Linked DNA regions of Homo sapiens: region 1 is linked to region 2. Evidence: fine-mapped expression QTL. A gene starts in region 2. The other region holds a variant in brackets. All regions are shown on one strand. Distances are between the middles of the regions. Region 1 holds the start of GSTM1 (glutathione S-transferase mu 1). Region 2 holds the start of GSTM3 (glutathione S-transferase mu 3).

Region 1 (5,374 bases), 53 kb before region 2:
AAATAGAGCCATGTTTTTCTTCTTGCAGAGAGCCTATAAATGGACATGCAAGTAGGGAAGATATTGCTAAATTCTTTTCCTAGCAGGGAATATTAATATTAATACTCTGGGAAAGGAATGCATTCCTGGGGGGAGGTCTATAAACAGCCGCTTTGGGAATGAATGACTGTCCTATGCAGTTGAGATAAGGACTGAAATACACCCCGGTCTCCTGCAGTACCCTCAGGTGGGGAAAAAACCTGGCCCTGGCAAATTTGTGGTCAGACTGGTTCTCTGCTCTTGAACCCTGTGTTCTGTTGTTTAAGATGTTTATCAAGACAATATGTGCACCACTGAACATAGACCCTTATCAGGAGTTCTACTTTTGCCTTTGTCCTGTTTCCTCAGAAGCATGTGATCTTTGTTCTGCTTTTTGCCCTTTAAAGCATGTGATCTTCGTACCTACCCTCTGTTCGTACACCACCACCCCTTTTGCAATCCTTAATAAAAACTTGCTGGTTTTGAGGCTCGGGCAGGCATCATGGTCCTACCGATATGTGATGTCACCCCTGGCGGCCCAGCTGTAAAATTCTTCTCTTTGTACTCTTTCTCTTTATTTCTCAGCTGGCTGACACTTATGGAAAATAGAAAGAACCTACGTTGAAATATTGGGGGCAGGTTCCCCAATAGCCTTGCTGAGGAAATTAAATTTATGTTCAAGTGCTATTTCTTTATGGCACCAAGGAACAAGTATTTCAAACAATACTAATGTAACAGTACTGGTTCTATGTGTTTCAAAATTATTATTCTCATGAGTGTTAGCTTTCTTAAAAAATCGTTTTTTTTTTCAATTGGATCTAGACATCTTATCTTTCACAGCTCAAGACGGATTAACTCAGAATCATAAACTCTTAATGCATAATGAGAAATATAATGTTTCCTAGGGCCAGGCACTTGTGTCTGTGCTGGTGCTATTGCCTCAATGCAGGAAAATCTATGTAAGAGTTCACTGTGAGGCCAAAACTGCTTCCTAAACATGGATACCTGCCAGGTATCTGAGCTGGGAGTACTGCCCAGGTCTGGATGGGCGGGGAGTGTTTGCAACAAGGACTGTGCCTTGCCAGCCTCAGTGACACAGTGTCCAAGTGCCCCAACTTAGCAGCCACCTGCTGACCACCTGATTTCTGTGGCCTAATAGGGATGTGATGAAGTCTACCTGTTTACTCAACCCCAAACCACACATTATCCAGGTGGTTTGAAACTTTTTTGATATACTGGGTTCATCCTCTGGAGTCCTAACAATGTTTTAGCTAATTTACAAAAAACAAAACAAAACAAAACAAAACAAAACAAAACAAAAAAACTACTTTTTTTGCAGCACAACAGCCTGGTTTACATTGCAAAATGATTTCTCATTAAAGGTCTATCATCTATTTCCATATGTCCATTATTATTTGCAATATCCTTTAAAGCAGTCAACCCCAGGCTAATCCATTGCACAACTCTTTTGAAAGTCTTCCTTCTACCTTGAAAGAAGAAAGTTGGCAGGTTGGACATTGTTCTCGTGGAGGTTGTACCATGGGTCACATATCACGGTGTGACTTCAAAGGCCACTGGAGCCACCGTCTCATACTGAAGAACACACATGGGTCAGGAGCCAGGTCCAGGTCCGGAATGGTGGATCTGGAGAGGGGAGGGTCCCTGCCTGTGGTCCTGTGGGGAGCCCTCAGGCTCCTCTCTGGCCACCATCCTCTGACCTCCCTCCTCAGCAGGACAGGGTTCTGGCTTCTCTGAGGGACAGGTTCTGTGGCAGGCCAGGCGTCACTAACACAGGCCTCCATAACAACTGTTTCAGTACTGACTGAGTGGTGAAGTTAAATATTAAAAGCTGAAAAAAGCCAGTACCTTTATACAGAGGCTGGATGTAACAAAAGCCCACCAAGAGTTTTGCTTAGGCCTTTCCTGGGCCTTAAAGCATGACAAAACAATGAAGGAATTCTTAACAGGACCTATTTAGAATTAAACAAGTTTTATTGTGAGTCTGAAGAAACTCCCCAGGCCTCCACAAACAAGTTTATTGGGCGTCTGAAGGAACTCCCCAAACCTCCGTGATTTAGCAGGAGACAAGATAAGGGTAATCATCCCCCGCACCTGGACCCATTTAGATTAAATAAATAGACTGAGGCTCCAGAATAAGGTCCTCAGGACCCAGACCTCAGTTACAGATTAAAGAAGTTAATCACTTATGTCTTTAGATGAATGCACACTTACTTGTAGACATATACCTTAGAAGGTATATATGCTCTGGAAAACTTTGTAATATTGAGTTGGTCTGGTGGTAATTTCTAGGCCTTCTCCCTGTTACCGGTTGCAGAAATAAAACCTCTCTTCCTCCCCATTTGATCTGCATCTCGTTATTGGGCCTAGAGAAATAGCAGCCGGACCCTCAGTTTGGTCCGGGAAGTTCTTCCATCCTCCCTCGCCTGCTCTCTGTGGCCACTGCACTCACTGTTGCTGTTGCTGTTCCGGTCTCTGTGAGGTTCACCTAGTGGACTGGCTGGACATTTCTAGGGGGCACCTCAGATACCTCACCAACTTGCTGGATCTGATCCTTGGATTTCGATTCATAAATTGTGCCAAAATACGAAGTGGCTAATTTACACAGTACTTAGCCAGATGACCGAAGGACTCAGTACCCGAGGGCCCCTAACAGAAAACACAGACCACATTTCCTTTACTCTGGCCCTTTTCCTGGGGGTCCTTCCTATACCACTGACACTGTTCCTGTGTAGGCGGGGCTAGAGGGGAGACTAAGCCCTGGGAGTAGCTTTCGGATCAGAGGAAGTCCTGCTCTTACAGTGACAGGGGCTGAATTAAATTCCCAGGTTGGGGCCACCACTTTTTAGTCTGACCCCTGCAGCCGGAGTCTCCCAGAGCCCTTGGGAACTCGGCAGCGGAGAGAAGGCTGAGGGACAC[C/T]GCGGGCAGGGAGGAGAAGGGAGAAGAGCTTTGCTCCGTTAGGATCTGGCTGGTGTCTCAAGCGCACAGCCAAGTCGCTGTGGACCTAGCAAGGGCTGGATGGACTCGTGGAGCCTCAGGGCTGGGTAGGGAAGCTGGCGAGGCCGAGCCCCGCCTTGGGCTTCTGGGCGCCCTGACTTCGCTCCCGGAACCCTCGGGCCTGGGAGGCGGGAGGAAGTCTTACTGAGTGCAGCCCCAGGCGCCCTCTCCCGGGCCTCCAGAATGGCGCCTTTCGGGTTGTGGCGGGCCGAGGGGCGGGGTCGCAGCAAGGCCCCGCCTGTCCCCTCTCCGGAGCTCTTATACTCTGAGCCCTGCTCGGTTTAGGCCTGTCTGCGGAATCCGCACCAACCAGCACCATGCCCATGATACTGGGGTACTGGGACATCCGCGGGGTGAGCGAGGGTCCGCTGGACGGTGGGACGAGGGCGCAGGGGAGGGAAGTGCGAAGCAGCTGCGGGACGGACTCTAGGGACCGTTCCTCTTCAGGGCTGCCCGCCTCAGAAGGGCCTGTGCATGCCGCTGTGTGTGTGTTGGGGGTGTGGGCGGGTAGAGGAGGCAACGGGTACGTGCAGTGTAAACTGGGGGCTTCCCTGGTGCAGACAAAGTCAGGGACCCTCCATCTCTGACGCGACCTGCGGGCCATCTCTCCCAGCTGGCCCACGCCATCCGCCTGCTCCTGGAATACACAGACTCAAGCTATGAGGAAAAGAAGTACACGATGGGGGACGGTAATGGCACCCTCGTGTTCGGGCTCTGCCCACTCACGCTAAGTTGGCACCAAGCAACCCATGGTGGCCACCTGTGGCTGCCTCTGCAGGCCTCCCCTGCTGGAGCTGCAGGCTGTCTCTTCCCTGAGCCCCGGTGAGGGAGCCCTCTGGCCTTGCAAGGCAGAATGCTGGGGTGGGATGCTGGGCCCCCTGTCTAATTGGGACGGGTGTCCCTCAGGGCTTGCCTAAACCCTGGAAGCCTTAGCTGTGTGGGGTCCAGAGCCCTCAGCGGGATTCTTTGTCCCTGAACCCTGGGATGTGGGACTGAGTGGTCAGATTCTAGATCCACCTGTCTCAGGGATCTTGCCACTGGCTCCGTGGGAGGGTCCCCGGGAAGGAGGGCTGGGCTCTGGGGAGGTTTGTTTTCACTTCTTCTTCCCCACCACAGCTCCTGATTATGACAGAAGCCAGTGGCTGAATGAAAAATTCAAGCTGGGCCTGGACTTTCCCAATGTAGGTGCAGGGGAAGGGGCGGTTTTGGGGGAAAGTGCAACGTGTCTCTGACTGCATCTCCTCTCCCCAGCTTAGAGGTGTTAAGATCAGGAGTCTTCTGCCCAATTCCTCTCACTCCTGGCTGTCTAAACAGTCCTTCCATGATGTTCTGTGTCCACCTGCATTCGTTCATGTGACAGTATTCTTATTTCAGTCCTGCCATGAGCAGGCACAGTGAGTGCCCGGTCTCCTCTCTGCTCTTGCTTATGGGAAGGGGATGCTGGGGAGCCTGGTGGCCCAACTGAGCTTCGCCGGTTTCCCATCCATCCAGCTGCCCTACTTGATTGATGGGGCTCACAAGATCACCCAGAGCAACGCCATCTTGTGCTACATTGCCCGCAAGCACAACCTGTGTGAGTGTGGGTGGCTGCAATGTGTGGGGGGAAGGTGGCCTCCTCCTTGGCTGGGCTGTGATGCTGAGATTGAGTCTGTGTTTTGTGGGTGGCAGGTGGGGAGACAGAAGAGGAGAAGATTCGTGTGGACATTTTGGAGAACCAGACCATGGACAACCATATGCAGCTGGGCATGATCTGCTACAATCCAGAATTTGTGAGTGTCCCCAGTGAGCTGCATCTGACAGAGTTTGGATTTGGGGCCAGGACTCTTGCATTCCTGCACACACTGGTCTTAAGTCCCTGGTACCATTCATCCTCCAAGTGCTTTCCCATACTATCAGCAGTTATTCTCACGACTCCAATGTCATGTCAACAAAAGCAGAGGCAATTCCCACCAACCTTAGGACACGATCCAGGCATCCCAGGGTAGAAATTCAGTTCCTGTATGGTAAAGTTTGTGTTCAGAATCTCCTTCATCAGCTCTGGCCTCTGACTTCTGTCCTGGGTCATTTCTGTCAGCCAGTTCACATCACCTGCCTGCTCCTAGAATATGCAGACTCAAGTAGAAGACTCAGGAATGTAATGGCACCCTCGAATTGCATCTTCTCCTCAACAGTTTTCTGAGTGCTGTCATTGACATGCACAGGGATCTGCGCATTTTCATAACAGACAGCTCAGAGGCAGTCAGAGGGCCTTTATTCCTCTCCCTCCTTCCTTTCAACTTGAACTTCTCATCTCCCTGGAAACTAGTCAATGTTCATTGTTTTCTTCTGCCACCCCATTAGA
Region 2 (5,374 bases):
TTCTAACAATCTGGATTGGTGGGAAGGTAGCAGCAGCAGAATGGAACAGAGATAACCCTTGGGTTCCTAAATACCCCTTTTTCTGATACTCCATTCAGCAGATGTGTGCTAAGGAAACTCACGTGGTCAGAGCTGTAACAGAGCCTTATCAGTTGTGTGCGGAAATCCATTACTTGGTTCTCTATGATGTCCACTCGAATCTTTTCTTCTTCAGTCTCACCACCTGTAGGCCAAATGACAACAAATCACCCTTGGCATCATCCACTCTCAGACAAACTACCAGCCTGGGGTCCCTCACCAGCCCTACCCCACTCACACATGTTGTGCTTGCGAGCGATGTAGCGCAAGATGGCATTGCTCTGGGTGATCTTGTTCTTCCCATCCAGGAGGTAGGGCAGCTGAAAGGAAAAGGACAGGACAAATGAACAACCTGCCTCTCTCTTGATTCCCTACCTCTCTCTCCAGGGGAAAAGAACACTTGCAGGGCAGTGAACAAGAGTGAGAAGATGCTGTGTTAGGAGAAAAAAGAAAATAAGTAGAAGGTAGCAACTGGGTCCACAAGATTCTAGACAGGGGTTCTTAAATTGGTGTGTGTATGTGTGAGTGTATGTGCATGCCATGGACCTTTTCTCAGAATAAAGTTGTTAAATGCATGAAGCAAAATAGATAATTTACACAATCAAAAAATATTTTTAAAAATTCAAATAAGAGTAACATGTGCCTATTAGTGCATTAAATAGCAAGCAGATGTAATGACTAACATAATCTCAAAGTAAATAACATTATATGTATATATTTACTTACATGTATATAAATATCACTTAAAATATCTGCAACGCATGTTATAGAATATGAAACTACCTGATTTCAGGCTGGGCACAGTGGCTCATGCCTGTAATCCCAACACTTTGGAAGGCCGAGGTGGGAGGACTGTTTGAGCCCAGAAGTTCAGGATCAGCCTGGGTAACATGGCAAAACCCCGTCTCTTACAAAAATACAAAAATTAGCTGGGCATAGTGGTGTGTGCCTGTAGTCCCAGCTCCTTGGGAGGCTGAGGTGGGAGGACTGCTTGAGCCTGGGAGGTTGAGGCTGCAGTGAGCTGTGATTGCGCCACTGCACTCCAGCCTGAGCGACAGAGTGAGACACTGTCTCAAAACAAAAGAACAAGAAACACACAAAAAAGAAAATACCTGATTTCTACTAGTGACAAAGTGACAGACATGGCTAATAACCAATGTCACTTATTGTCTCTCTTCACAATAAAAGGAAATAACTTTTGCTAGTGGTTAATGGGAATGAAAATACATATCCATCCAGTTCAAGGACCCCTGAATTCTATTTATTCTATCCGGGTTAAGATCCCCTATTTTGCATCCTTCTGTACCAGGCAGGAGAGAGGCAAGGATGGATATACTTGAAGGCTTTCCCTTCTGCCCGCCACCTCTACTAAAGCCACTTACATTAGGAAAGTCCAGGTCTAGCTTGAATTTCACATCCAGCCATTGGCTTCGATCATAGTCAGGAGCTGTAAGAGACGGAATTAAGTGGGACCCAACCTCCTTAATACCCCACCTGACAAGAGCAAAAGATCTAAAGAAATGACTTGGTCCCAATACCTCAAATTCCCAGGCCCCAAAAGCATAACCATTGAGCCTCTGAGCCCTATTTGGTTAAGCATTAAGACGGGTTTGGGCTATGTTAAAAAGAGAACCCCCAGTTCCAGATAAAGGATGTGTCTCTATTCACCCAGATTGGGGCAAACGTCCCACCCGGCCTTGGCGCGACGCCACCACCCTCTGGGCGTAAGAAGACCAGGGCAGGTGGAGGGCCAGCTTGGCTGCACGGGCACGCGGAGCGGCATTACCTTCCCCGCACGTGTACCGTTTCTCCTCATAAGAGGTATCCGTGAACTCCAGGAGCAGGCGGATGGCGTGCGCCAGCTGGGGAAGACAGCGGTTCAGCGACTGCGCAGCTCCCACCCATTCCCAACCCCCGCCCGCTAACGTTCCCCGGCCCGGGGCTGCCGAGTCCCTGCGTCCTGCCGGGGCGGTGGTTAAGCGGCCCCTAGGCCCGGCTCCGGCGTGGTCTCCTCCGCCCCTCCCCACAGGGCCCGCGATCCCAGAGGCTGGGCAGGGGTCGACATCCGTGGCTCGGCAGCTCGAAAAGGCTCCCGCGTAGAGCTGCTCCTGCTGGAGATCGCGGACCCAGAGACCCGCCCTCTCCGCGTCAGTCTCTTTGACCGAGCGGCTCTACCGTTGAGACGGCACTCACCCCACGAATATCCCAGTACCCGAGAACCATAGACGACTCGCACGACATGGTGACGGGCTTCCGAGCCTTCGAGGACTAGGGAAACTGTGAGCGGGAGGGGCTTTATACCCGACATAAGGGGGCGGGGCCCACGCGCGGGCGCCCTGACTCCGCCTCCGCCCCGTTCTCCGTCCCTTGCCTCCGCGGCTCCACAGGGCCGTGCGCAGGCGCGACTAATGCCGGCGTTGGGGTTCAGGGCCTGGCGACCCCGAGGCGGGACCCGGGCAGGAGTGCTGCAGGAGAGCAAAGGACCCGAGGTTGAGGCTCCTCCCTTCCCCGCGGGTGGGAGCCAGACTTCATTCATTAATGGTGCCAGTGAAGACGCGAAAAGCACCACTAGCCAGGCAGTGGGGACCCTAGTTACCCAGGGAGAGCGAGATTCGCGCCGTTTTTACCGAGCCAGCCGGGGCTGGATGAAGGATAGGAAGACTGGGGCAAGGCCGGAGAGTCAGACCAGCCTCTGACCACACAGAGCAGAAGATTCCCCACAGACCAAGCTCCCCTCTCTGTCAGTCAAGGACCTCTGCAACCTGACCCCAACGTGCTTTTCCAGTCCTGTCTCTCCCTCAGCCCGTCACAACTTCATAAGCCAGCCCAACCCAACAATACTTGCTGTTCCTTCTACACACACTTGCATTTCCCACCTTGGAGTGTTTGCTCTGTGATCCTCCTACCTGCATCCTAATTTCCACAGCCTATCCTTCCTCAGCAGCCTTGCTGAAATGTCTGCCTATTCCTTGAAGCCTTCTCAGAACCAACCTCTATCCTGGCCAGAAGAGGTCTCTTATCTTGAATGTTTCCTACCTTTGTTTTATGGGCTTAAGTAATTTATGGATTCCTTATTATAATTTCCTCCTCCAATCCCTCCCACTTCCTAATGCTCACGCATTTAGGGAAATTAATCTTGCCTCTTTGTGTAGGATGGACTGGAGGAGGAAAGGTACTACCATTTTTCATTCACTCATTCATCTGTCCAACAATGTTTAACATGCCTGTTATGGACAGGCACTGTTTTAGGTGCTGGGGATACAGAACTGAACTCAACAGACAAAATCCCTGCCCTCAGGAAGTTTACATTCTAATGGGGAAGAAATAAACTAATATATAGTAAATAGCTAGTAAGTCAGGTGGTGATACACATCCTATGGAGAGAAATAAAATCGAGAAGAGAGATAGGGGGTCTCAGGGTGGGAACTGGGGGAGTCCCAGTAGGAAGGGGATTTATGTTTTTAAAGGTTATGTTCATAGAAGGCCTCATGGAGAAGTTAATCTTTAAACAAAGACCTGAAGGAGGTGAGAGATCAAGCCACTCTGCTGTGGGGGCCACCATGGGCTGATATAAATATAAAACAGAATAATTGCTGTTCCTTTTACAAGCATGTTTGCTCTGCTCCTGCCTGCACCCTAATGTCCATGGCCTAGCCTTCCTCAAGTAGCCGTGCTCAAATGCTCACTTCTTCCTTGAAGCCTTCTCAGAATCACCCTCTATCCTGGCCAGAAGAGTTCTCTCCCTCTCTTATCTCGAATCACTTCCTACCTGCAGGAGGCAGAGAGAACTCCAGGAAAAGGGAAACAGCAAGTACAGGAGTGATCACTCTGTGTTTGAAACCAGAGACTAGATGAGATCACCATGGGAGCACGAGTAGCAGAGATGAGGTCTAAGGGTTTGAGGTGCTCTGGCATATCAACATGTAAAGGTTAGGGAAAAATGAGAGCAAACCAGCAAAGGAGTCTGAAAAGGAGTGGCCAGGGAGGTAGGAGGAAAACAAAAGGTCCCAGAAGCCATGTGAAGATGTTTAAAGGGAGAAGTGATCAACTATGTCAAGTGTGGCTGATCAAGTAAGATGAAGATGGAGAATCAATGGTTGAATTTAGGAAAGTAGGGGTTTTGACCTTGACAGAGCAAGAGACCTGCCCGAGGCCCCTATAGTCATGGGAAGAACTAAGCTTCTGAATTTCGGCAGGGCCCATGCAAATGAAAAGGGGCACAGATTTGCAACAGGGTCAACTCGGGAGACATAGGATTCTAGTTGAATGTGGAGGAGTGACAGAGGAAGGAGTCCGGAGCTGCTCTGAGGGTTCTGGCCAGGCCTCTGCAGCACAGCTCTCAGGGCAGTCTGAGAGCCTAGATCCCCTAGCTCAGGTGTGGGAAATCACATTTGCCCATCAGTTCAACTGAAGCAAGGTTGGGACTTTTTAAAAGGGCATTTTGCTAAACAGAAGAAAGGAAGAGTACAAACCACATGGACAGGTGAAATTTATAATGCCTGTGTCTCTCCTCCCAAGAAAGCAAAAGGCCAGTCACAAATTCACCTGAGGTATAAGATTAACATTTATTGAGCACCTATCATATGCCAGGCAATATCTAAGTGTTTACGTATGTTAGCTAATTTATTCCAATTTAAGCTTCACAACAACTTTAGGAAGTAGGTGTTATGCCCATTTTCTTTTCTTTTTCTTTTTTTTTTTTTGCAGTTTTTGCATTACTTTCTTTTTTTTAAATTTTATTATTATTACACTTTAAGTTTCAGGGTATATGTGCACAATGTGCAGGTTTGTTACATATGTATACATGTGCCATGTTGGTGTGCTGCACCCATTAACTCCTCATTTAACACTAGGTATATCTCCTAATGCTATCCCTCCCCCCTCCCCCCACCCCACAACAGTCCCTGGAGTGTGATGTTCCCCTTCCTGTGTCCATGTGTTCTCATTGTTCAGTTCCCACCTATGAGTGAGAACATGCGGTGTTTGGTTTTTTGTCCTTGCGATAGTTTGCTGAGAATGATGGTTTCCAGTTTCATCCATGTCCCTACAAAGGACATGAACTCATCATTTTTTATGGCTGGATAGTATTCCATGGTGTATATGTGCCATGTTTTCTTAATCCAGTCTATCGTTGTTGGACATTTGGGTTGGTTCCAAGTCTTTGCTATTGTGAATAGTGCCGCAATAAACATACGTGTGCATGTGTCTTTATAGCAGCATGATTTATAATCCTTTGGGTATATACCCAGTAATGGGATGGCTGGGTCAAATGGTATTTCTAGTTCTAGATCCCTGA

The links. PIP is the estimated chance that this variant, and not a neighbour inherited with it, causes the effect.
Region 1: its variant is the best candidate, but not a certain one, in a credible set for the expression of GSTM3 in lymphoblastoid cells (GEUVADIS, PIP 0.88).

Annotation. Positions count from the first base shown.
Region 1 is chr1:109,684,524-109,689,897 of GRCh38, forward strand. GSTM1 (glutathione S-transferase mu 1) reads left to right here and starts at 3,294. Exons shown (of 8, transcript NM_000561.4): 1 at 3,294-3,386; 2 at 3,647-3,722; 3 at 4,150-4,214; 4 at 4,525-4,606; 5 at 4,702-4,802. The coding sequence starts at 3,351. RefSeq lists an enhancer at 3,344-3,393. The variant C/T (reference allele first, on the strand shown) is at 2,956.
Region 2 is chr1:109,737,969-109,743,342 of GRCh38, forward strand. It overlaps GSTM3 (glutathione S-transferase mu 3), which reads right to left and starts at 3,070. Exons shown (of 9, transcript NM_000849.5): 1 at 2,985-3,070; 2 at 2,272-2,543; 3 at 1,865-1,940; 4 at 1,461-1,525; 5 at 317-398; 6 at 123-223. The coding sequence starts at 2,319. RefSeq lists a silencer at 2,280-2,509.